3 separate regions of the Homo sapiens genome follow, and all the other regions are linked to region 3. The links come from fine-mapping of genetic effects on gene expression. A gene starts in region 3. Each other region holds a variant in brackets. All regions are shown on one strand. Distances are between the middles of the regions.

Region 1 (7,575 bases), 23 kb before region 3:
CCAGCTCGAGGCTGCTCTTCAGCCCCAGCCCCTGGTGTCCCGCAGCGGCTGCGGTGGCAGTGGTGGGGGAGCAGGCATGGCACCCGGAGCACTGGAGCCCAATGCAGGGTGACCCCTTCCCCCCAGCTCCAAATCCAGCATCCCTCCCCGGTGCCTAGCCCTCGCCAGGCTGCTGGCCCCATCGCTGGGAAGGAGTGGTTTGACCCCTCACCACTGAGAGGAGTAAGGTGTACTTCCTTGTCAAGCATGACTCCGAGCGGCACTTCTTCCACACCGCGCAGCTGCCTGTGCCTGGCAGGGGCCTCCTGCGGCCGGAACGTCCCCTGCATCCCCAACCACACCTGGCACAACACCATGGCTGAGGTGCGCTTCCAGCTGCACCAGCAGCCCACACGCCTCCTGAGCACCACTACCAGCTACCCCAAGCCCGTCTATACCAGCTACCCCAAGACCGTCTATACCAGCTACCCCAAGACCGTCTATACCAGCTACCCCAAGACCGTCTATACCAGCTACGCCAAGACCGTCTATACCAGCTACCCCAAGACCGTCTATACCACCACCCTGGATTACAACTCGGCAAGATGCTGGGGAGGTTTCTGTTAGGGTGGAGCTGGAAGCCATCAAGTTCCTGGGTAGAGATGACCTTTCAGATGGATGCTGACCCAGCAGGCTGGGCTGAGCTGGGACCAGCTCTTCCACTGCCCTGCTCCGAGCCTGCTCTGGTCAAGGTGGGCAATGCTGCCCTTCATGTACTTCCAGCCCCGGAGGAGCTGAACCTAGAGATACCTGGAAACCCAGCTTAGGGAAGTAAAAAAAAAATCACTGCATCTCATAATTATTGAGATATTTTTAAATTTTCAAGCTTTTTTTTTTTGAGACAGAGTCTTGCTCTGTTATCCATGCTGGAGAGCAATGGCACGATTTTGGCTCACTGCAAACTCTGTCTCCCAGCTTCAAGTGATTCTCGTGCCTTAGGCTCCCGAGTAGCTGGGATTATAGGCAGATGCTGCCACCACTCCTGGTTAATTTTTGTATTTTTAGTAGAGATGGGATTTTGTGATGTTGGCCAGGCTGGTCTCAAACTCCTGGCCTCAAGTGATCTGCCCGCCTCAGCCTCCCAAAGTGCTGGGATTCCAGGCGGGAGCCACCCACACTTGGCTCAAGCTGGGTTTTTTTTTTTTTTTGAGGCGAAGTCTTGCTCTTGTCCCCAGGCCGGAGTGCAATGGCGCGATCTCGGCTCACTGCAACCTCTGCCTCCCAGGTTCAAGCCATTCTCCTGCCTCAGCCTCCCAAGTAGCTGGGATTACAGGTGCCTGCCACCATGCCTGGCTAATTTTTTATTTTTAGTAGAGATGGGGTTTCACCATGTTGGCCAGGCTGGTCTCAAACTCCTGACCTCACGTGATCCGCCCACCTCCACCTCCCAAAGTGCTGGGATTCCAGGCATGAGCCACCGCACCCGGCCGGCTCGAGCTGTTTTTAAGAGGATATATCCTGGTTTGCTGCTGTGTAGTTTCCCCAAAGTCTCAATTTGATGAGAAAATAGAAAGACCACTAGAACGGAAAAATAAAAAATAAAAATTAGATTTCATCAAACTGGAAACCTTTGCTTTCCAAAAGATAACCATTAAGAAAGTAAAATAGCAAGCCAGAGGATCGGAAATTATTCACAACACATATCTGAGGAAGGACTCACACCTAGACCTGGGAATAACGCTAAGACCAGGCTGGGTGTGGCGGCTCCCGCCACCTGTAATCCTGGCACTCCGCGAGGTGGAGGCAGGTGAATCACTTGAGACCAGGACTCCGAGACCAGCCTGGGCAACACAGCGAGACCCAGTCTCTATAAAAAAAACCTTTTCTTTAAATTAGCAGAGCATAGTGATGCATGCCTGTAGTCCCAGCTACTCAGAAGACCGAGGTGGGAGGCTCGCTTGAGCCCAGGAGTTTGAGGTTGCAGTGAGCTATGATCGCACCACTGCACTCCAAGCCTGTGCGAGAAAGATCCTGACTCAAAAAAAAAGACAAGATTTCCAAGACCCAGTTTTTTAAATAGGCAAAAGAATTAAGTAGGCCCTTCCCAAAGACGCCACCCAAATGGCCAAGAGCAGACAAAAAGGTGTCATGCCTCTGGCACCAGGGAAGTGCAAGTTACTACAAAACGAAAACAAAAGAATCAAATGGATTTAATTGTCTTTTTGTTACTGATTTCCTCCTCAATTGCACTCTGGCCAAAGAATGTGATTTGTATTATTTACCTACATATCATATATTTATACATTATCATCTGCGAATTACTGACATTTGCTTTGGGTCCTAGTACCTCGTCCATTTTTAAAAGATTCCATGCGTGCTTAAGAATGTTTTCTCTAATGGGCATAAGTAGACCAAGTTTTTAACTGTATTATCCCATTCTTTCATATTCTTCATCAATGATCTAAGCCTCTATCAAAAGAACCTAAAACAAGGACAGCAAATTGAACACAAAATAGGTAGAAGAAAGGAAATTCATAAGAAAAGAGCAAAAGTCAATGAAAAAGAAAACAATAGAAAAAAAAAATCAATGGACCCAAAAGTAGGTTTCTTTGGGGAAAATATCTGTAAAAATGATAAACTCTTAGCTAGTCTGATCAGGGGGAAAAGAAAACACAAATGGCCCAGAGCAGGAATGAGAATGGACATCACTGCACAGAGGATACTGTGAATGATTTATGTAAATTGTTTTGATAACTTAGATGAAATTCTGCGACAAACCTATCTTTAAAAAAATGACAAAGGAAGAAACAGAAAATCCAAAAGCCTCATGTCTTTTTTTTTGAGACAGAGCCTCGCTCTGTTGCCCAGGCTGGAGTGCAGTGGTGTGATCTCAGCTCACTGCAACCTCCACCTCCTGAGTTCAAGTGATTCTCCTGCCTCAGCCTCCAGAGTAGCTGGGATTACAGGCATGCACCACCACACCCTGCTAATTTTTATATTTTTAATGGAGACGGGGTTTCACCATGTTGACTAGGTTGGTCTCAAACTCCTG[A/C]CCTCAGGTGATCCATCCACGTTGGCCTCCCAAAGTGCTGGGATTACAAGCGTGAGCCACCATGCCAGGCCTCATGTCTATTTTTAAAAATCAAGTTCTTAATGAAAAACCTAAGCAAAAAGAAAATGGCAGGCATAGATGGCCTCACCCATCACATCTCTATGAAACAAATAATGCCAATCCTATACAAACTATGGCAGAACTTGTTTCAGGAGGCCCACTTAATGCAATATCAAACCATGACAGACACATCACATGACAAGACAATGAACATCCAAGCCCAGTGTCCCTCAAGAGCATTCCTACACAGGAGGTCCTTAGCCCGGTATGAGCAAATCTCATCTGGCCATGCAGAGAAAAGGCCAATGCACCATGGCCACAGGGACTTACCTGGAAATGCCAGGTCATCTTGGCATATGAAAGTCAGCGTAATTCACTACAGTAATGCGGTAAGGAAGTGACCTCATGAGCATCTCACTAGGTGCAGGAAAGGCAGCTGACCACATTCAACACGGATTCAGGAAAAGCCCTCAGCAAATGAGGAAGCTCTTCTGCCTGTAAGTGCACCAGTGCAAACCCAACACTGAGCCGGGAGAGACTGAGCCCATGTTCACCGAGACTGGGAATAAGATTAGCGAGCGCCGGCTCACCTCACCAGTGCAGTGAGAAGCCGAGGCACAGACTGACAAGGGGAAGCAAAGCCACTGTCAGACAGAGGACACGCGTGTGCACACGGAAACCCCACGAGTCCACAGAAACACCGCCATGGCCAAGGCGGGAGTTTAGGGCACAGGATTAAAGCACCACGCACAGGTGACAAATGAAATAAAAATACACAGTCCTCAATAGCATATCGAACACCTAGGACTAGATCTAAAGGAAAACATGCCAGACACATGCACAGAAAACTCCAGTTCATTGTTGGGAGAAGTTGAAGATGAACTCAATACCTGGAGTCATACATGGCAGTCAACGCATGGACACCGGAGACTGTTGAGACGCCGACTGGAGTCACACACGGCAGTCAACGCGTGGACACCGGAGACTGTTGAGACGCCGACTGGAGTCACACACGGCAGTCAACGCGTGGACACCGGAGACTGTTGAGACGCCGACTGGAGTCACACACGGCAGTCAACGCGTGGACACCGGAGACTGTTGAGACGCCGACTGGAGTCACACACGGCAGTCAACGCGTGGACACCGGAGACTGTTGAGACGCCGACTGGAGTCACACACGGCAGTCAACGCGTGGACACCGGAGACTGTTGAGACGCCGACTGGAGTCACACACGGCAGTCAACGCGTGGACACCGGAGACTGTTGAGACGCCGACTGGAGTCACACACGGCAGTCAACGCGTGGACACCGGAGACTGTTGAGACGCCGACTGGAGTCACACACGGCAGTCAACGCGTGGACACCGGAGACTGCTGAGACGCCGACTGGAGTCACACACGGCAGTCAACGCGTGGACACTGGAGACTGCTGAGACGCCGACTGGAGTCACACACGGCAGTCAACGCGTGGACACTGGAGACTGCTGAGACGCCGACTGGAGTCACACACGGCAGTCAACGCGTGGACACTGGAGACTGTTGAGACGCCGACTGGAGTCACACACGGCAGTCAACGCGTGGACACTGGAGACTGTTAAGACACCGATTCTTCCCAACATGTATTCAAGACATTCAGAAAAGGTATTCAAAAATGCGTTCAAGGGAATTGCTATTGAAATTCCAGAAGGCATGTTTTTTTGGTAGAAATTGAGACACTGATTGTAAAACATATATGGAAACACCAAGGACATAAACAGCCACAAGAATCTTTAAAAAGAAGAGTTGGAAAATGCACATCACCTCGATTCAGGGTTTATTATAAACCCAACTGTAGCCAAGACAGTGTGGCGGCCGGGCACCATGGCTCACACCTACAACCTGTAATCCCAGTAGTTTGGGAGGCTGAGACAGGAGCATCACTTGAGCCCAGATCAAGACCTGCCTGGGCAACATAGTAAAACCCCGTCTCTACAAAAAAAATAAAAATAAAAAAAATAAAATCAGCCGGGTGTGGTGACACACGCCTGTGGTCGCAGCTACTACTCAGGAGACTGAGGCGAGGGGATTGCTGGAGTATGGGAGGTCAAGGGTGCAGTGAGCTGAGATCACGCTACTGCACTCCAGCCTGAGGGACAGAGCAAGACCTTGTCTAAAGTGTGGCAATGGCAAGAGCGTAAGGACAAACAGAAACAGACCCACACAGGTAGGTCAGTTGATTTCTGACAAAGGCGCCAAATTAGGAGAAAAAAGCCTATGCAGCAAATAATCTGAAAGTTAAGGGAGAAATGGATCCTGACTGCAACCCACACTGGAAACGTACACTCCTGAGTAGGGACTGGATACACACGCGGCACACACCCACACAACAGGCCGCCACGCGGCAATCAGGAGTCTGCCGCTGATCCACGCAAAAGCCTGGGTGAATCTCAGATGCTGAGCGAATGTAAGCAGATACACGCAGACATACACAGACGCACGCAAAGACACAGACTGCCCAGAGCCATGCACGTGGAACCCATGGCAGGCGGGAGGTAGGGAGCTGCGGTGGTAGGAGTCAGAATGGGTACCCCTGTGGGACTGGCTCTGCGGAGTGGAGGGCATCACCTACATCCTTCGTGAGTGCGCACCATGACCAGCCACACCCATGGAACTAACACTCGGTATCTGGGTTTTTTGTGTAACTGCCTCCCCTCAACACCATGGTCTCCCACATACAAAAGAGGCCATTATACAGTAAGACACGCTACTCCGCAATTAGACACCACAAAACGCCAGCCAGGCTGTCCATAATTAAAAATACCGAGCACCAAGTCTCAGCAATCCACTAGTGTTCTCCTTCCACCCAGCTGGGAGAAAGAAACACAGTCCAACCACTTTGGAATCATCTCTATACTTGGACAACACGCTTCGTAAGATCCATTAGGTGCTCCTAGAGTTGGCCCCCACCCCCACCCCCACACGAGTGTTCACCACAGCTATTTCCAAGTGAGTGTTATTACCCCAGAAAGGAAGCAACTCAAATATCCACCCACAATAAAGTGCATTAAAATCAGAGCACAGGACAGTCATGCAATGGAATACTATACAGCAATGAAAAGGAACACACTTCTGCTAGATGACAGGGCTGAGTCTCACCAACACACTGAGTACCTTAAGGCTCTCAGGATAATGGGAAAAAAAAGAACCAGAATCCACCCCCCGCCCCACCAGCCACACACACACAAGTCCACAAAGGAACAGGCACCCACATGCTGTACCCTGGGGCCCTTCCAACCCTGATGCGCCAACTCCCGACATGCTGCCTCTAGCCTTGACCTTTCTCAGAAATGATAGCTTAGCGGATGTTTGGCAGATCTCAACAGTCAAGCCAAGATCCAGCTGCAGTCAAAACACAATACGCCTGGTGGAGCCTCTTCCAGGTTCAAACACGGGAACCACGCTCGGAGCTGGACCCGGACCCGAGCCTCTTCCAGGCTCAGACACGGGAACCACGCCCAGAGCCGGACCCGAGCCTCTTCCAGGCTCAGACACGGGAAGGGAACCACGCCCAGAGCCGGACCCGAGCCTCTTCCAGGCTCAGACACGGGAAGGGAACCACGCTCGGAGCCGGACCCGAGCCTCTTCCAGGCTCAGACACGGGAAGGGAACCACGCTCGGAGCCGGACCCGAGCCTCTTCCAGGCTCAGACACGGGAAGGGAACCACGCTCGGAGCCGGACCCGAGCCTCTTCCAGGCTCAGACACGGGAAGGGAACCACGCTCGGAGCCGGACCCGAGCCTCTTCCAGGCTCAGACACGGGAAGGGAACCACGCCTGGAGCCAGACCCGAGCCTCTTCCAGGCTCAGACACAGGAACATTCTCGGAGCCGGACCTGAGCAACCGCCAGTCCATCAGCTATGGTCAGAGGAAGGCCTCCGTGGCTGTCTCTCCCCCATGAGATGGGGCATTTACACAGCACACTTAGGGACACGGAGGCCCTGCAGGTTTGGTGAGGTCTCCCGAGGTCCCTGAGCTGCAGAGGTGAGAGTTGAAAGACGCTGCCCCCAGGCCACAGTCTCTGACTGTCCACAGAACCACACGCTCCACATCTTCCCCTCAAACTCAACTCAAGCGCTCTTGGCTTTAAATCAGGCCGGGCCGTCTCACGGGAAAAGGAGGTTGGCTGCAAAGACCCACAGGGCCCAGAGGGGAAGCTGGCTATGACGCGATCCCTTCAAGAGCACTGGCTCCGGCCCCAGCCACCAGGACACTTAGTGACCAGCCAACAAGCGGGTGGTTTAAATACTGCACTCTATTTTTTAAGGACTCTGTGCATGGTATTTCCGGTGGCAGATGTGTAAGATTTTTTATGTAAATCGTGTTGTTTTAGCAGAGGACTATCAGACCTGACAGCAGCTGGACATCGAGGTCCTCACTGGGGTGGTGACTGCCACGCTGATGCTGAGTGGAAGCCAAGCCCCTTCAGTCAGAGCTGGGCCGATCTCA
Region 2 (7,575 bases), 27 kb after region 3:
GGTGCACAGTGATGGCCGGCCTCTGAGAGCTGGGGCGGGCCAGTGCGGCCTGACTCTGCCTGTAGGAAGCTCTAGAACAGGTCACGCTGATCTGCAATGAAAAGTCGCCTCTGGAGGGGGTGCAGTGGGGACTGATGAGCGCATATCTCGGGGGTGGTCAGGTTCTTATCTTGGTGGAGTCCGCTTTTGTCAACTCCCTGAGTGACACCCTTGAGATCTGTATAGCATGCTGGGTTGAACTGTGACTCCCAAATTCATATGTTGAAGTCTTGACCCCTGTATCTCAGAATATGCCAGGGCAGAGTCAGCAAAAAGAGGAAAATCTCCAGCCGGTTCCCCAGCTCTGAGCCTGTACCTGCCTTGGGGCCAGGAGAGGCTGAGGTGTGGGAAAAATGCATATTTGGGTTCCTCTGCCAGAGCATGGTCCTCCGTGGAGTCGGCCTCCTGCAGAGGGGAGCAGCAGGTGCTGTTGCATGCTACCGTCTCCCCTGAGCCTCTCAGGGTCTCCTTAGGAAGAGGGTGCATGTTCCCTCCCAGGTGCAGCTCACCCCTACCTCTGCCCCCCACATCTCCCTCCCCCCGCCCCAGGCAGCCCCCAAGACTTTCCTTGCCCTGAACTCCCATCTGCCTCCCGGGTCTGTCCTCTGTCCCTGGCTGCTCGGGTCAGCGTGGCCTCCGGTTCTCTCCCTTTCTGTCCCTTTTGCACTCTGGCTCCCTCTCTAGGCTGCGGTGCAGTGAGGACGCTGCCCAGGGCTGGAGGCTGGCGGGAGGTTGGGTGTGATGTGAGGCTGTGTTGCCGGCTGTTCTGGGGATGCTGACAACATTAGCGTGGCTCATGTTTATCGTGGGTCTAGCTCCCCTTGTACAGACATGGTCCTCTTCCCTTCCTCCGCGGAGGCAGAACCCTGATGCGTCGTGGGGCATGTAGCTGGCCAGAATGAAAACCTGCATCTCCCAGCCTCCTCCCTGAGGCTAAGTGGAGCCGAGCTGCTAAGTCGTGGCCAGTGGGTTAAAGGCAGAAGTGCTGTAGGAGACTTCCAGGAAGATGGCTCAAAAACAAGCTGACTCAGCTGGGACTTCTGGGAGGGGCCCTTTTCTGCCCTGTACTTTTCCAGCTTTCTTCCACCTGTCCTGTGGTCTTGATGGCTGGAGCACCAGCAGCCACCTTGGACCATGGAGTGGCTTTGAGGCTAGACACTATGCGTGGAGGACGAGGAGCAGGACAGCCAGGATCTGGGTCCCTGAGGACATCGAGGAGCTGCCACCTCACCCTCAATCAGTCATCCCCAGATTCTCCCTTCAGAAAGAAATCAGCTTCTTTCTTGTTTATGCTTCTTTTGCTGGGATTGTCATATGCAGCGAAACCAAACTGTGGAGTCCCGATCAGCTGATAGAAATGAGGAAGGGGTTCCCTCCTCTGCACAGCTCCATGGCACCACAGGCCCTAGCTGGCAAGAACATGAACTAGGGTCGGGGAGAGCCGTTGTTCTAAGAAATGGCTAACCACAAGCAGCCCGCTTGCACAACCTCATGTTACCAAATACCTCACTCTGCACGTTAGCTCCAGCAGCATGACCCTGTCTGCATGGGGCCTCTCCAGCGTGACCCTGTCTGCATGTGGCCTCTCCAGCGTGACCCTGTTTGCATGTCGCCTCTCCAGTGTGACCGTTTCCACATGTAGCCTCTCCAGCATGACCCTGTCTGCATGTGGCCTCTCCAGAGTGACCCTGTCTGCATGTGGCCTCTCCAGAGTGACCCTGTCTGCATGTGGCCTCTCCAGCGTGATGCTGTCTGCGTGGGGCCTCTCCAGCGTGACCCTGTCTGCGTGGGGCCTCTCCAGCGTGACCCTGTCTGCGTGGGGCCTCTCCAGCGTGACCCTGTCTGCGTGGGGCCTCTCCAGCGTGACCCTGTCTGCGTGGGGCCTCTCCTGCGTGACCCTGTCTGCGTGGGGCCTCTCCAGCGTGACCCTGTCTGCGTGGGGCCTCTCCAGCGTGACCCTGTCTGCGTGGGGCCTCTCCAGCGTGACCCTGTCTGCGTGTGGCCTCTCCAGAGTGACCCTGTCTGCATGTCGCCTCTCCAGCATGACTGTATCCACATGTGGCCTCTCCAGTGTGACTCTGTTTGCATGTGGCCTCTCCAGCATGACCCTGTCTGCATGTCGCCTCTCCAGTGTGACCCTATCAAACTTCCCCCTGGCCCCTGCCCCTGGGGAGGTGGCCTTCTCTCTGCCATGCTGCCTGCTGTTCTCTTGCAAGGTGTCTTCAGACTTTCTTTACCCACGACTGTCTCGGTAAATTCTTTTACCACCCGTGACACCAGCCCCAGCCAGTTGCACCTGCAACACTGGCTGCAGTGGATTCCTTGTTGCTGATACTCCACATAACGTTGTTAGGTGTCATATATGATCATTCTTTAACAGAGGGGCAAGCTGAGGCTCAGAGAGGTTAAGGCACTTGCTCAAGGTCACACAGCAGAGAGGTTGTGAGTAAGCCAGGCTGCTGGCTTAGAACACTGCCATGGCATTTCTCAGATCACCTCGCTCAGGGACTCCTGGCAGTTCCCCCTGCGTCATAGCGGTGAGTCTGTCCAGGATGAGCCACTCCAGGCTACCGAGGGCCAGCTGGAGGGCCTGCAGACACCTGCTGTGGAGTCAAGGTCCACACCATCAGCCGGAAGAGAGGTCTCAGGAGGGGCATTAGTGTTTGTCCTCGCTGTGATTGCACTGACTGACAAATCAGCTGTGGGACAATGGAAAACACAGTAGCAGCTTGTTACTGAGAAGGGAGGACTCAGGGTGGACCTGACCCCTCTGCAGATGGCTTGGTGAGAACGTGGCCTGCCCTGTTGGCTCCTCCCTCTGGGTATTGGAATTGCCGGGCAGCCAGAGGCTTACCTGGGGTTACTGGCACCCAGGGAGGAGAAGCCCTGAGCTGTGCGGCTGCTGAGGAAGGCTGTCTGCAGGGGAGAGCCCGAGCGCTGAAGGAGGCCAGTGGGCTCAGCCCGATGTCTCCATTCTCCTTCCTACAGCAACCAGGGTGCTTGGAGCAACCAATTGCCCCCCCTTACCTGGTAGGGATGCTAGGAGGGAGAGCGAGCCATTCCTCTAACATCAGTGACCATGTCTTGGTTCCAAAACCCCTTAAGCCTTGGGTTATTTATCAGCAAAAAGAGAAGGGAGGTGCTCAGGGGGTCTTCGTGGAGATCCCCTGCTCCCCTCGCCTTGAATGTGGAGAGGGCCCAAGACTCCCTAGGGAAGGCAGGTGATATAGACTCCAGGTGTGCCCTGCTCCGTCCTCGGCACCACTCTGCAGCACCACAGGCAGTCTGGGGTGCAGATAACATCTCCCTGGGCACAGCTTCGCACCAGGGCATGCTGGGGTACAGCCACACTTGCACAGCCTGTGGATCCCTGCAGCCTGGGGATTGGGCTGCTATTCCCACTGCAGGGAGGGAGGTGGTCGGAGGTAGGGGCTGCTCCTACCTAGGTACTTCTGGCCTCACCAGAAGAAGGGGGAGGGTTTGCACATTGAGTGGC[G/A]CCTGCTCCATGTTTGTGCCTGTATTTACATCATTATTCTGAAGGCCAAGAGATTGGACCTGCCGGAGCTCCATGCACAGACCCTGTGCAGGTGCATGTGGGCTTCTGGCTTCCTGGTGTGCACAGCCCCTTCTCTCCCTTCTGGACTGTGGCAGTGTACTAGGGACATTGTAGCCACTGTGTAAAGTCTCCCGCTTTCTGGGACAATTTTATTCACTCATGTGTGTTGAGAGCTTGTTTTGTGCTGGGGTCCCTGGGGAGAACGCTGGGTTCACTCATAGTTCCACAACAAGAGACCTGTGGCCTTTGTTGTGGACAGGGGCCAAGAGCACGTAGAGAAGGCGCTGAATGCTCCTTGGCTTCCAGGGGAAAGATCAGGACTGGAAGGATGTGGGAACTGCCCAAAGCTACAGAATCTGCTGTCTCAATGGCTGAGCAGGGTGCAGAGTGCATGCGGCTGTTTGTTCTGTGGCACTGGTAACCTTGGCACTTCTCCAGGTGTGAAGGACAGCATGGGAGTGAGCCTGTGAAGTTGTAGGCAGAGTCCAGGCAGCCCCGAGCCTGGGTTGGTTGTAGCTGTCAGAGTGGCAGCAGGTGGACAGAGGGGATGGGCTCGGGGGGAGGCGGGGGGACCCGCTTGAGTGGGAGTCAGCCTGGGGGCATCTCAATCCCTCTGATGCCTGGTTTGGGTCCCCAGCACTACTTAGCCCACCCCACTGAGCCTGTCTGTGCCTGGCCTGGCACTGGTGATGCAGGGACTGAGTCAGGCAGGGCACGACCCAGAGAGCCCATGGGCAGACAATGTTGGTGCTGCATGCCCGGGCTTAAACCAGCAAGCCTGATTCTGAATGTCCACAAGCTCTTGGCTGGTGGGGCCACAGGACTGGGACCCAAGCCTCCTGGCGACATGGGTGAGGCCATCTGTCATCGGTCCTTCTCTCAGGCCACCTGGTTCCCTGTGACTCACTTGGTGTTGGCCAGGTGCATGGATGCAGATCTGAGCAGACAGTCCCTGTGTCCCCAGTCTGGTTGGGGGTGCAGGGGTCTGGAGCCCATGTGAGCCTGGTGAGAGCCTGGGAAGGAACCACTTTTTCCATGGCAGAGCTGAGTGCAAAGCACGCTGTTGCACTGCTCTGGTGGTGGCATTTTACTCTGTAACCTATTCATCCACACACTCATGTATTTCTCCACCCACCCATTCATCTACTTATCCACCCATTCACCCATCCATCCACTTATCCATCCACCCATCTACACATCCATCCATCCACCCACACACCCATCCACCCACCCACCCATCCACCCACCCATCCATCCATACACCCACCCATCCATCACTTATTTGTTCATCTATCCATCCATTCCCCATCTGTCCATCCACCTACTCACCCATCCATCCACCATCCATCCAACCATCCATTCATGCATCCATCTACTCATCCATTCATCCATCCATCCACCCATTCACCCACCCACCCATCCACGTATTGACCCATCCATCCACCCATCCATCTACCCATACTTCCATCTATCCACATACCTGCCCATGCACCCACTCATCCATCCACCCACCCACTCACCTATCCACCCATCCACCCATCCATGCATCCATCCATCCATCCCCCCACCCACCCGCCTCGTCCCTCCATCTGAAGGTCATTACGGAACAGCTGTGAAGCTGAGATGCTGGGGACCCAGTGGTTACTCAGGACAGTCATGGACACTGCCCTCTAGGCTGTGCTTCCTGGCAGGCAGAAGCAGCGAACAGGACCCTTTGCAGATAGTGGTGTCTGCTGTAAAGGAGAGAAAACAGCGAGAGTAAAAGAGTTGAAGAGCTACTGGGGTCTCCTGGGACTCTTTTCCATTCTGAGTCCTGAGCCCACCGAGAAGTAAGGCATGAAGGCAGGTGCTGGAAACCCAAAACCCTTCTATCAGTGCCAACTCCTCCATCAGGTTGTAAACCAAAAGATATCTGAGACAGGTCTCAATAAATTTAAAACACTTATTTTGCCAAGGTGAAGTAAGGGCCTGTGACACAGCCTCAGGAGGTCTTGACGACATGTGCCCAAAGTGGTCAGGGTACAGTTTGCTTTTTTTTTTTTTTTTGTTATTTTATTTTATTGAGATAGAGTCTCACTCTGTTGCTCAGGCTGGAGTGCAGTGGTGCGATCTCGGCTCACTGCAACCTCCGTCTCCCGGGTTCAAGCAATTCTCTGTCCCAGCCTCCCCAGTAGCTGGGAATATAGGCGCATGGTACCATGCATGGCTAAGTTTTTGTATTTTTAGTAGAGACAGGGTTTCACCATCTTGGCCAGACTGGTCTCGAGCTCCTGACCTCGTCATCCACCTGCCTTGGTCTCCCAAAGTGCTGGGATTACAGGCGTGAGCCACCATGCTTTCTTTTGTACATTTTAGGGGGACATGAGACATCAATCAATATGTGTAAGATGTACGTTTGTTTGGTCAGGTAAGGTGGGGCAGCTTGACAACTTGCGGGGGTGGGGGACTTCCAGGTCATAAGTAGGTAAGAGACAAACTGTTGCATTCTTTTGAGACCTTGATCGGCTTCCCACTGAAACACAATTTAGTCTGGCTCAGGGAATCTGTATTTTTATATCAACAATAGGGCAGAGGAAGCCATCAGATATGGATTTGTCTCAGGGGAGCAGAGGGATGGCGTTGGGTCCTGTCTGTCATTTGTCTATGAGGAATTTCCTCATGGGCAAATTTTGAGGGAGGTAGTGGCTTTTTAGTCTCTGTAGCCATCTTATTCAGGAGTGGACTGGGAGGCAGGTTTGCCTGAGCAGTACCTAGCTTGACTCTTCCCTTGGCTTGGTAATTTTGGGGCCTGAGATTGATTTTCCTTTCACAGGGTGTAGCAGGCTTAGTGCCAGGGCCCAGGAGACTTTTAGGGGTCAGGAAAGTGGTTTAATGCCTTCTAAAATCAGAATAAACACAGTGCAGCCTGGGCTGTAGTCATCTTTCTACAAACGCAGTTATGAAACATCATTCGTAATACTTTAGCCCAGAGGAGGGGCCCACAGAGGCTGTGATGCCAGGCTGCCCGTTATTCCCAATGGAGGCTGGTCGGAGGACGCGGCTCAGAGTGAAGGCCAAGGGGGCCTTCCCTGAACCCCAGAGTGGAGGGGCCACCTGCCCAAAGGTGCAGCCCAGGCCAGCCTCCAGGGAGCCCCCACCTGTTCAGCAGAGCAGGCCACCCCTGCAGGTGGCAGCGGAGAGTGAGCTCAGCCTGCCCTGCAGACCCCGCCTGGATTTGCCAACCCCTCCCTGCGTGGGGGTGGGTGACAAATGGTGGGAGAGAGGCAGGGGTCGGAGAAGTCAGTTTTCTCCACGTGGAAGGAGGCTCGGGAGTTGGGGAGGACACCCCCACCTTCCCCGGCCTTTTGTTGCCCTACCCAAGGGCCTCGTGGTCACACTTGTGGTCAGCTGGGGGGCCGCCCCTAGGGAGAGGAGAACTGTCGGGGTCCCCTTCATGAAGCCACTCCCAGGACTGCAGGGGGCCGTTTGGGTTTACCCCCCATGAAACTGCCTTTGCAAAAATTATAAGTGAGGAAATGATGACAGTGAAAGAAATCAGACCTAACCGACTCCATATTCCTTCTAACCTTTAAGCTGTCCTTATTCATCCCTGGGCGTAGGCCGAACTAACTTTGGGAAGGAATTCAGTTCATGGTTTGACTCTGAAACAAAACTGATAACAGCCCTTTCCCGAATAGACCCCCTTCTTGCCTGAGGACCAGTCGGCCTTTGTAGGACTAACAAATTAGCTGCAAGATTAGAAATTATGGTTTAGGGGTCTTGCGGCCTCCGGCTGTGAGAGTCTGAACCTCCCCAGATTGCTTCTGGGGATCACCTCACTATTGTAAAACCTGAGATCAGTGCTGGGGATATTCTGCAGACCCCGCACTCATGGATCAGCTGACACCACCTAGACCAGTCATCTGACTCAACCAGTTCCGCCATCCCACCCAGGAACAGAAGACAGCAAGAAAAACTCACTTTGACCCCCTATGAGTCCA
Region 3 (7,575 bases):
GAGCCGACCGTGTCCTCCTGACCAGACCCAAGGGCCCAGCACTGCTTGGGACCTCAGCAGTGGCCCTTCCCCACACAGCACCACCCGCGTGCCAGCAGAGCTTTCTGGAACTTTCCAATAACCTGCTGCTGCTTCTCAACGCCCCAGGAAACCCAGGCCAGGGTCCACAGCTACACCACTGGTGTCAACCTGCACACACCGCACAGTTCAGGCTGGGCAGGTTCCAATGCCACCAGGACCGCCAATGGACCACCTCTTCAGAGGGCATGTGCCATCCTCCCAGCGCTCACCTGAGTGCCCGCGCCAGACTGCAAGGCACCCACCATGAGGAGCAGGCTGTGGCGGTGACCAAGGCTTCCTGGCACGCTGTACCTGTCTCACCACGGCAGGTGGCATGCACTGTCCCAGCCCAGCCACTGTGCCCCAGCTCCTTCCACCTGAGCTCCGTGGACAAGGGCACAGCCGTACCCGCCTTGAGCTGCTGTGAGGTCATGCATTGGCCTGGCGAGTCCTAGGTGCCCATGGAGGCCACTGGCTGGCCCATCCTCAGAGGCCCTTCTCAAGCCAGGGGGGACGCTTGAGAGCTGGGGTGGGGCTCTGAGGGCTCCTCTCTGCAGACCTCAGTTTCCACTCGTCAGACCTCTGAGAACAAGATGCTTCACACACTCTCATTGCAGTCACCATTCACGTCAGAACTAAGGACTGTCTGCGTGCGGTGCCTCCTGGGACTACACCTGTAATCCCAACACTTTAGGAGGCAGAGGCGGGAGGATCACTTGAGCCCAGGAGTTCGAGACCAGCCTGGCCAACATGGTGAAACCCCGTCTCTACTAAAAATATAAAAATTAGCCAGGCATGGTGGTGCATGCCTGTAATCCCAGCTACTCAGGAGGCTGAGGCACGAGAATCGCTTGAACCTGGGAGGCGGAGGTTGCAGTGAGCCGAGATCACGCCACTGCACCCCAGCCTCGGCGACAGAGTGAGACTCTGTCTCAAAAAAAACAAAAAAACAAAAAACCAAAAAAACTAAGGACCTATGGCCAAGGACTCCGAGCTCATGGCACCGTGCAGCCCAGGCCAAGAGGTACACGAGTGTGTCCCTGAGCGCCGCAGCTGGACCATGCAGACCCTGGAGCTTACTCCTCAGCATCAACACAACACACAGAGCTCTGAAGAGGCAGAGTCCTCAGAAGTCGTCTGTGAGCACAAGGGCTCTGCATGGCCTCTGACCTCCAAAGCTCCAGGGACAGCCTCTGCTCAGGAGTCTTGCAACACAGTGGAGCCCGCCTGTGAAAGAGGAACTGGGAGAGTCACAGAAAGTCAAGATTCAAGTTGCTGGAGAGGATGAAGCAGCACCCCCCTGGCCGGGTCTCGCCTGATGAAAGCGGGTCTCAGCATCTTCTTGGCGGCAACCTCAACGCAGGTCTCACAGCCCAAGCCCATCAAAGGCAAAGGTTTCCTGAAACGCTCCCTTCACCCTATGCCTACTGACACACTACGCAATCCTATATGCCAGGATGTGGCTTTACATGCAGAAAACAGGGACACGATGTTTTCATGAAGCAAACCAAAGAAAGGACAAGACCGTCCTGGCTGCTGAGCGCAGGTCGCAGGAGGCTGAGAGCAGTGGCTGCAGAGCCGGGCAGGAAGTGCTTCTCTGAAAAAGCAGCCCTCACCTCAATTATCTTCCAGGGGGCGATCCAAGACCCCGTCTCCGTCTGATACCTACCTAGAGCGGCGAGTCAGGTGGGGTAAGAAGCCGACTGGAGTGACTATTTGCACGAACAATTCTCTCCCCCTACGTTTGAACTGACTGTGGCTCCTCCTGCCTCCTGACCACCCTGGGCCCTGGCACGCTCGGCAGAAAGAGCCACAGCACAAAGACCACCCGGGATGCACTACCGCCACTGAGAACCTCAAAAAGACCCGGACGGGTCTGACGCCTGCACACTTGGCTCCAGGATAGAACACCCTCACAGCACCGCCACCCTCCAAGCTTCCGTTATCTGGAAGGAAAATCAGGACGAATGGGCTCTGCAGGCCTGCCTGCCATAGTACCAGGCTCTCTGGAATGGGGGAAGACACACAAAATCCCCCAAAACACCCTCACCCCCGAAGAACTTCACGTTCTGTTCAGCAAAAAAGACTTGCCCACACAACTAGAACTTCAGGACTTAAAGGGACCAGAAAGATCATCTAGTCCAAGGCTCAGTCCAAAGTGGAGGTGAGCAGCTCGCCCTACCATGGTGCCCAGTGAACCTCAGGGAGGTTTAGGAGACATGACCCAACCCAAGACTGAAACTGGTCAGGCGAGCACCCAGCACCGGGGGACAGTGCAGGGGCAGCCCGAGGGTAGCTGGACCAGTGCAGGGGCAGCCTGAGGGCAGGTGTATTGCTGCAGGAGGCCTGGGCTGACAAAGACAGAGGACCAGCTGGAGGTGGCTGGAGGTAAGGTGGAGCGCACCAGGGCGGCCCTGCAGAGCAGGTGGAAGACTTGGGCCAGCACCCAAAAGGGAGCCGCTGGGGTTCCTGGGTCCGAGTGCACTTCCTCAGCGCCACCTCCAATCGGTCAGGGAGTCTATTTCGGGCTCCCCATTCCTCATGGGGAGGGGGGACTCCACCCACTCAACAGATGCCCAGTGCAGTGGGCACGGGGAGGCAGCACTGCATCCCGGCTGCTCCTGGTCACACCTGTTCCCTGCTGCTGGGAGGCCATCAACACATCCAAACCCAGCCGTGTCCCCAGCCCCTCCAGAATCCCTTCCTCCAAGAAGCCGCCCTGCCGCTCCAGCCCAGAGCGTTCTCCCACCTCCCACCTCCGCAGGCTGAACATTACGCCTGGGGCTTGACTGCTGGTCCCAGGAGCAGTTCAGGAAGGGCCTGTGGAGCTGATGCCCAGGCGTCAATCCCCATCCCCACGCAGTCTTATAACCGTCTGTCGTCTGTCTGTCCCCCACCTGTTTCTCCTCTCCCTTTTCGTTCCAAAAGTTCCTTCTTATTCTGCAAATCACTTACTTTCCCTCTCAAAGACTCAGGAATGCTTAAAACTGGACTATTGAGACAGAGATCTAATCTGACTCCTGCATTTGAGATGAGATAATGAGGCCCAGATGGTCGGCATAGTTCGAAAACACCCATTTCAGGTGTTTTCAGGAACACCTAACAAATGAAGCAACCGTATCTTAATGAAGAGAGCAGCTGGCCCAGGGTCACGCACCAATTAGGAAGCTGTTGTCCCGGGGGGCCCCACCGGCCGAGCCACCTTGGGGGTGCCCTTTCCCCTCGGGGCCTCCGTACCCTCATCTCTCAAATGAAGGAGAGGTCAGGTGAGCGCCCTGTTAAGACTGACTTTCAGCATTCCCAAGGTCGCGTTTTATGTGCTCTAAACCGATCCCATCTCCTCACCTCCTCATTTCTCGCTCAAATGAACAAGCACGGGCTTGCTACTGGGATTCCTTCTGTCCCTGGACACGTCTTTCTACCCAACATTTTGTTTTTCTTGTTTCCCCACATAGGGAGATAAGGTTGAGGGAACAGGCAAAGGCTCGGGAGGCAGGAGACCTGTGATCTAGCCTGGTTCTGTCCCTACGCTCGGGTCAGCAGGCCGCCCAGGCTGGGGAGGGCGACACTGACCCTCGGGGTGCCGGCCGCCACCTGCTTCACACGGCGTCGTCGCCGGCACGGGTACCTTTCCTGCTGCAGAAGGGGTCGGGGCGCCCCACCTGACACTTGGGGGAGGCTGTGCCAAGGACAGGGCGCGTAGGGCACAGGTGCCCCGGCTGCGCCCCCCTCCGCCTCCGACCCCTGGGCCCCGCTCCAACGACCCCAACCACGGCCCCCGCCCCCAGGCCCCGCTCCACCGACCGCGGGCCGCGCTCACTCGCTGGGCCTTCTCCCACAGCTGGTTCAACTTCTCCATGCGGAACTCCTCTCCGGACTCGCGTTTCGGGGACGGCTTGGGCTGGTTCTTCTCCCGCGAGTACTTGCCGCCGTGGCTCGCAGCGGGCCAGGGCCCGAGGAAGAGCAGCAGCAGTAGCAGCGCCGGGAGCCCGCGCAGAAACGACCTGACCCTCCGCGGCGCCATCTTCCTCTGCGACTGGCGCTGCGCGGAGAAAACCTAGCCTGCCGATGCCCCGCCCACTACCCCGCCCCCACCCACCGCGCGGTCTCCTGGGAATTGTAGTTCCTCCGTGAGCGGCCGGCAGCGGCGAGGCCGCCGGCGGACTCCAGCGCCTAGGAAGCCCTGCGCAGGCGCAAGCGTTTCCCAGGCAACCACGCCGCGGCCCGAGGCTGCAGACTCTGGCAGGGGATACAACTGGAGAATGAGGGTGGCCGGGTGGGAGCAGGGATCAGGCCTCACCCAGAGCCCGGAGCCTGGAGCCCGCACGACTCGAGGCCTCTTTCCCTCTCTGCCCCACAGAAAGAGCGGAAAGCCCAAGAACCGGGCCGCGTTTGGCTGAGCCTGATAATGCTCCGGCTTCACGCGCACTGACGCCGACTCTTGCATGTCCAGTGCCGTTGCGGGGTTGGCACTGCGGCCCGGGCCTGGCGCTGAGGAGCCTGGCCCAGCCCGCTTCTGCCCTCCGCGGAGCGCCTGGCCGTGGGTAAGCCCAGGCCAGGTTGTCCCGGGGACGCAGGGCCGCGCAGACGTCCCCCTACGTCCCGGGGCCCCTGCCCCAACCCGCGTCCCAAGCGCCTGCTCTCGCGCCTGCTGCAAGGCAGGACTTCGCGCGCTTTTCCCCAACCCATGACACTCTAGGAAATTCACAGAGCCAAAGTTAGCATAGACCGCTCGTTGGGGGCTTGGCCAGTGAGTTGGGAAGTGCCCTGGAGGTAGCGCGGGAAACAAGGGGAAGGAGGGAGACAGACAGCAGCTGGGCCCCTTTGGGCTCAGAGAAGGGACAAGGGGAGCTCATCTGGCAAGAATGATCTGAAAAGGCCTCCAAGGGTGGGCGGGATTTTGCGGGGGGAGGGAGGAATTTCCAACTGGAGGGACAATGACAAAGGGGGTGAATAGAGCCTGGGCATCTTGAGAGGAATTAATGTTAATTCATTTCCTTTTTTTGCGTGGGGGGATAGGGTCTCTGTCATCGAGGCTGGAGTGCAGTGGCATGATCATGGCTCACTGCAGCCTCGACCTCCTGGGCTAAAGCGATCCTCCTGCCTCAGCCTCCCAAGTAGCTGGAACTATAGGTGCGTGTCACCACGCCCAGCTAATTTTTGAAATTTTTTGGTAGAAATTAGGTCTCCCTATGTTGTCCAGGCTGTTCTCCAACTCCTGGGCTCAAGCAACCCTCCCGTCTTGGTCCCCCAAAGTGCTGGGATTACAGGCGTGGGCCACTGGGCCTACCCTAATTTACATTTAAATTGTATCTTGTGTTGTTCCAGAGAAGATTTCAGGTCCCTGGAATCAAGGTGATCTGCTTCTGTCCTGTGCTGCTTTTCTAGTATTTTCAGAGCCATCGTTTCATTTCTTTTTTTCCAGCTGTTGAGTTGTTTCAGGCAAGAGGGTAAATTCAGTCTGTTACTGCATCTTAGCTGGAAGCACAAGTTCCCAATATGGGATGTATGGGGGAGAGGAGGTAAAGGAATCCCCCAGGAGGGTGGTGGAGGGAGAATGACCTCATGCGAAGTGACTCCAGAGACAGATCAAATGCTGTCATTGCCATCATTGCATGTTTTTAAGCCTCAGGACAGAATGGCCAGGTGAGCCTGGCCTAGATTCTCACCTGTGCCTGCCTTCCCCTTGTGTTCCCTCGTTCCTGCTCTTCTCTCCATCTCCTGGTGCCTAGAATCAGAGGTCACCTGTTTTACCCCACATACATGTTTTGCCCTGACCCCACTCCTGAGAGCTACAGGTAGGTCTTGGTGGGCTTAGAAGGGGATAGTCCAAATTGGCCTATCCCCCCCAAGCATGTCCCTGTTGGTCATCTGGAATGTGGTCCTAACTGCAAATGTTCCAGCTCTGTGAATCCTGCCCCCAGTGTCTCTAGAAAGGCCCGTTATAAACCCACAGGAATTGGAAGCTGGACTGGGAGCAGAGTCTTCTGGGATCCTGCATCTGACAGTGGTGTGGGGTTCTAAGAGCCCTTTTCCTATACAGCCCGGTTTCCCAGATAACTAAGCAATATTTTATTCGTGGCTGCATACACAGGCAATGAAACTAAAGAAAGTCAGGGGATGGCTAAAGGATGGAGGATACCTGGGCTGGGGGAGGAGGGAGAATGCGACGGGTGAACACAGACAGGCTTCCAAAGTGGTGTCCAGGTTGTAGTTCTTCACTAGGTGGTGGGCACACAGGCATGCATTTTTCCTTATCTTTAAATTGTACATATTTCATACACTTCTCCGTATGTATTATACATTTCAAACTAGTACATCTTCTAAAAAATCACAGTGGTTAATGCAATCAGTACAGGTGCCAGGCACATACCAGAGACTCCAGGTGACGGCATGCTCTCCTCTTGGGCTCCTCCTCTAGGGCTGAAAGTTTATTTCTCACCCCTGCCGCCAGCACCCGCCATGCCAGCCCGTGTCTCTAAGTGCTGAGGGGAAGGTGTATGAACAGAGACAGATACGGCCGTGGAGGAACCCGGAGGGAGGGCCCTCCACTTGGTGAGGACGGATTGTGAGGCTGGTCAGTGCTGAAGCTGAGTATCTTGCTTACGAGAGAAAAGGGGAACTGTGCTTATAGGACCATCTCTCAGAGCAAAACAAATTGAGTCTCTTGGGAAGCCTGGCATTGAGGATTGTCCAGCTTTCAGAAGTGAGAGTGTTCAGCCTGACTTCAGGGGCACAAGGTTCTTGCTGCCTGGGCCTGTTCTGTAGTGTGGGGCTGTCCCTGACTGGCCGGCTTTCAGAAGCATGCAGCATTGTCATTGACTTATTGGGGTTTCATGCCACCACGGCCAAAAAGCAGTTTGTTTTTGTCCTTGAGTTTGGACTATAGATTGTTATTCTCTCCAGGCAAAGGCAGGAAGCACACGGGAACAGGTAGCGCCAGGTGGCTGCAGGCAGGTGGTCTGGCTGGAGCTCAGTGCAGAAGCACAAGACGGTGGTGAAGAGTGAGGCAGACCCAGGGGACTGAAACGCCACTGGAAGGAAGATTCCACCCAGAGCAATGGGGGCCACAGAGTGATCCTGAGGGGAGAGTTACACAGAGATGCGTTTGAGGAAAAGCAGAGACCAGTGGGAATGCTGGTGCTCTCCGCCAGAGGAGAGGCGAAGGTGATCGGGATGAGATAGAGACACGGAGGCAGTGAAGATGGAGAGGCCATGTGAAGGTGGAAGGGACAGAATTTGGTGACAAGCGTCCAGACTGACGCCCAGGTTTCCACTTGGGGAGACCAGAAGGTGGCAGGGCGAATTCCAATGCCAGGTCTCCAGGGAGAGCACGCTCAGGAGGAAGATGAGAGTCCGGGTCCCTGTGGGATGGACGTGGAGCCCTCCAGGGGCACTGAACTCTATAGATCTGCCAGTCAGGGGCAGAGGGGTCCAGGGCAGAGGAGACAGAGATCTGGGCACCACCCACGAAGGCACAGTGGGCAGGGGATGGAGCCCTCTGGAGGGAGCCAG

What was found. PIP is the estimated chance that this variant, and not a neighbour inherited with it, causes the effect.
Region 1: its variant is fine-mapped to the expression of LRPAP1 in whole blood (TOPMed, PIP above 0.99).
Region 2: its variant is fine-mapped to the expression of LRPAP1 in whole blood (TOPMed, PIP above 0.99).

Annotation. Positions count from the first base shown.
Region 1 is chr4:3,505,204-3,512,778 of GRCh38, forward strand. It overlaps LRPAP1 (LDL receptor related protein associated protein 1), which reads right to left. Exons shown (of 8, transcript NM_002337.4): 8 at 1-7,575. Among named protein-coding and RNA genes, the nearest start is that of LRPAP1, 23 kb to the right of the region's middle. RefSeq lists an enhancer at 3,646-4,845. The variant A/C (reference allele first, on the strand shown) is at 3,032.
Region 2 is chr4:3,555,714-3,563,288 of GRCh38, forward strand. No RefSeq gene overlaps it. Among named protein-coding and RNA genes, the nearest start is that of LINC00955, 17 kb to the right of the region's middle. The variant G/A (reference allele first, on the strand shown) is at 3,536.
Region 3 is chr4:3,528,329-3,535,903 of GRCh38, forward strand. It overlaps LRPAP1 (LDL receptor related protein associated protein 1), which reads right to left and starts at 4,094. Exons shown (of 8, transcript NM_002337.4): 1 at 3,881-4,094. The coding sequence starts at 4,084. RefSeq lists enhancers at 1-716, 3,874-4,083 and silencers at 3,584-3,833, 4,274-4,333.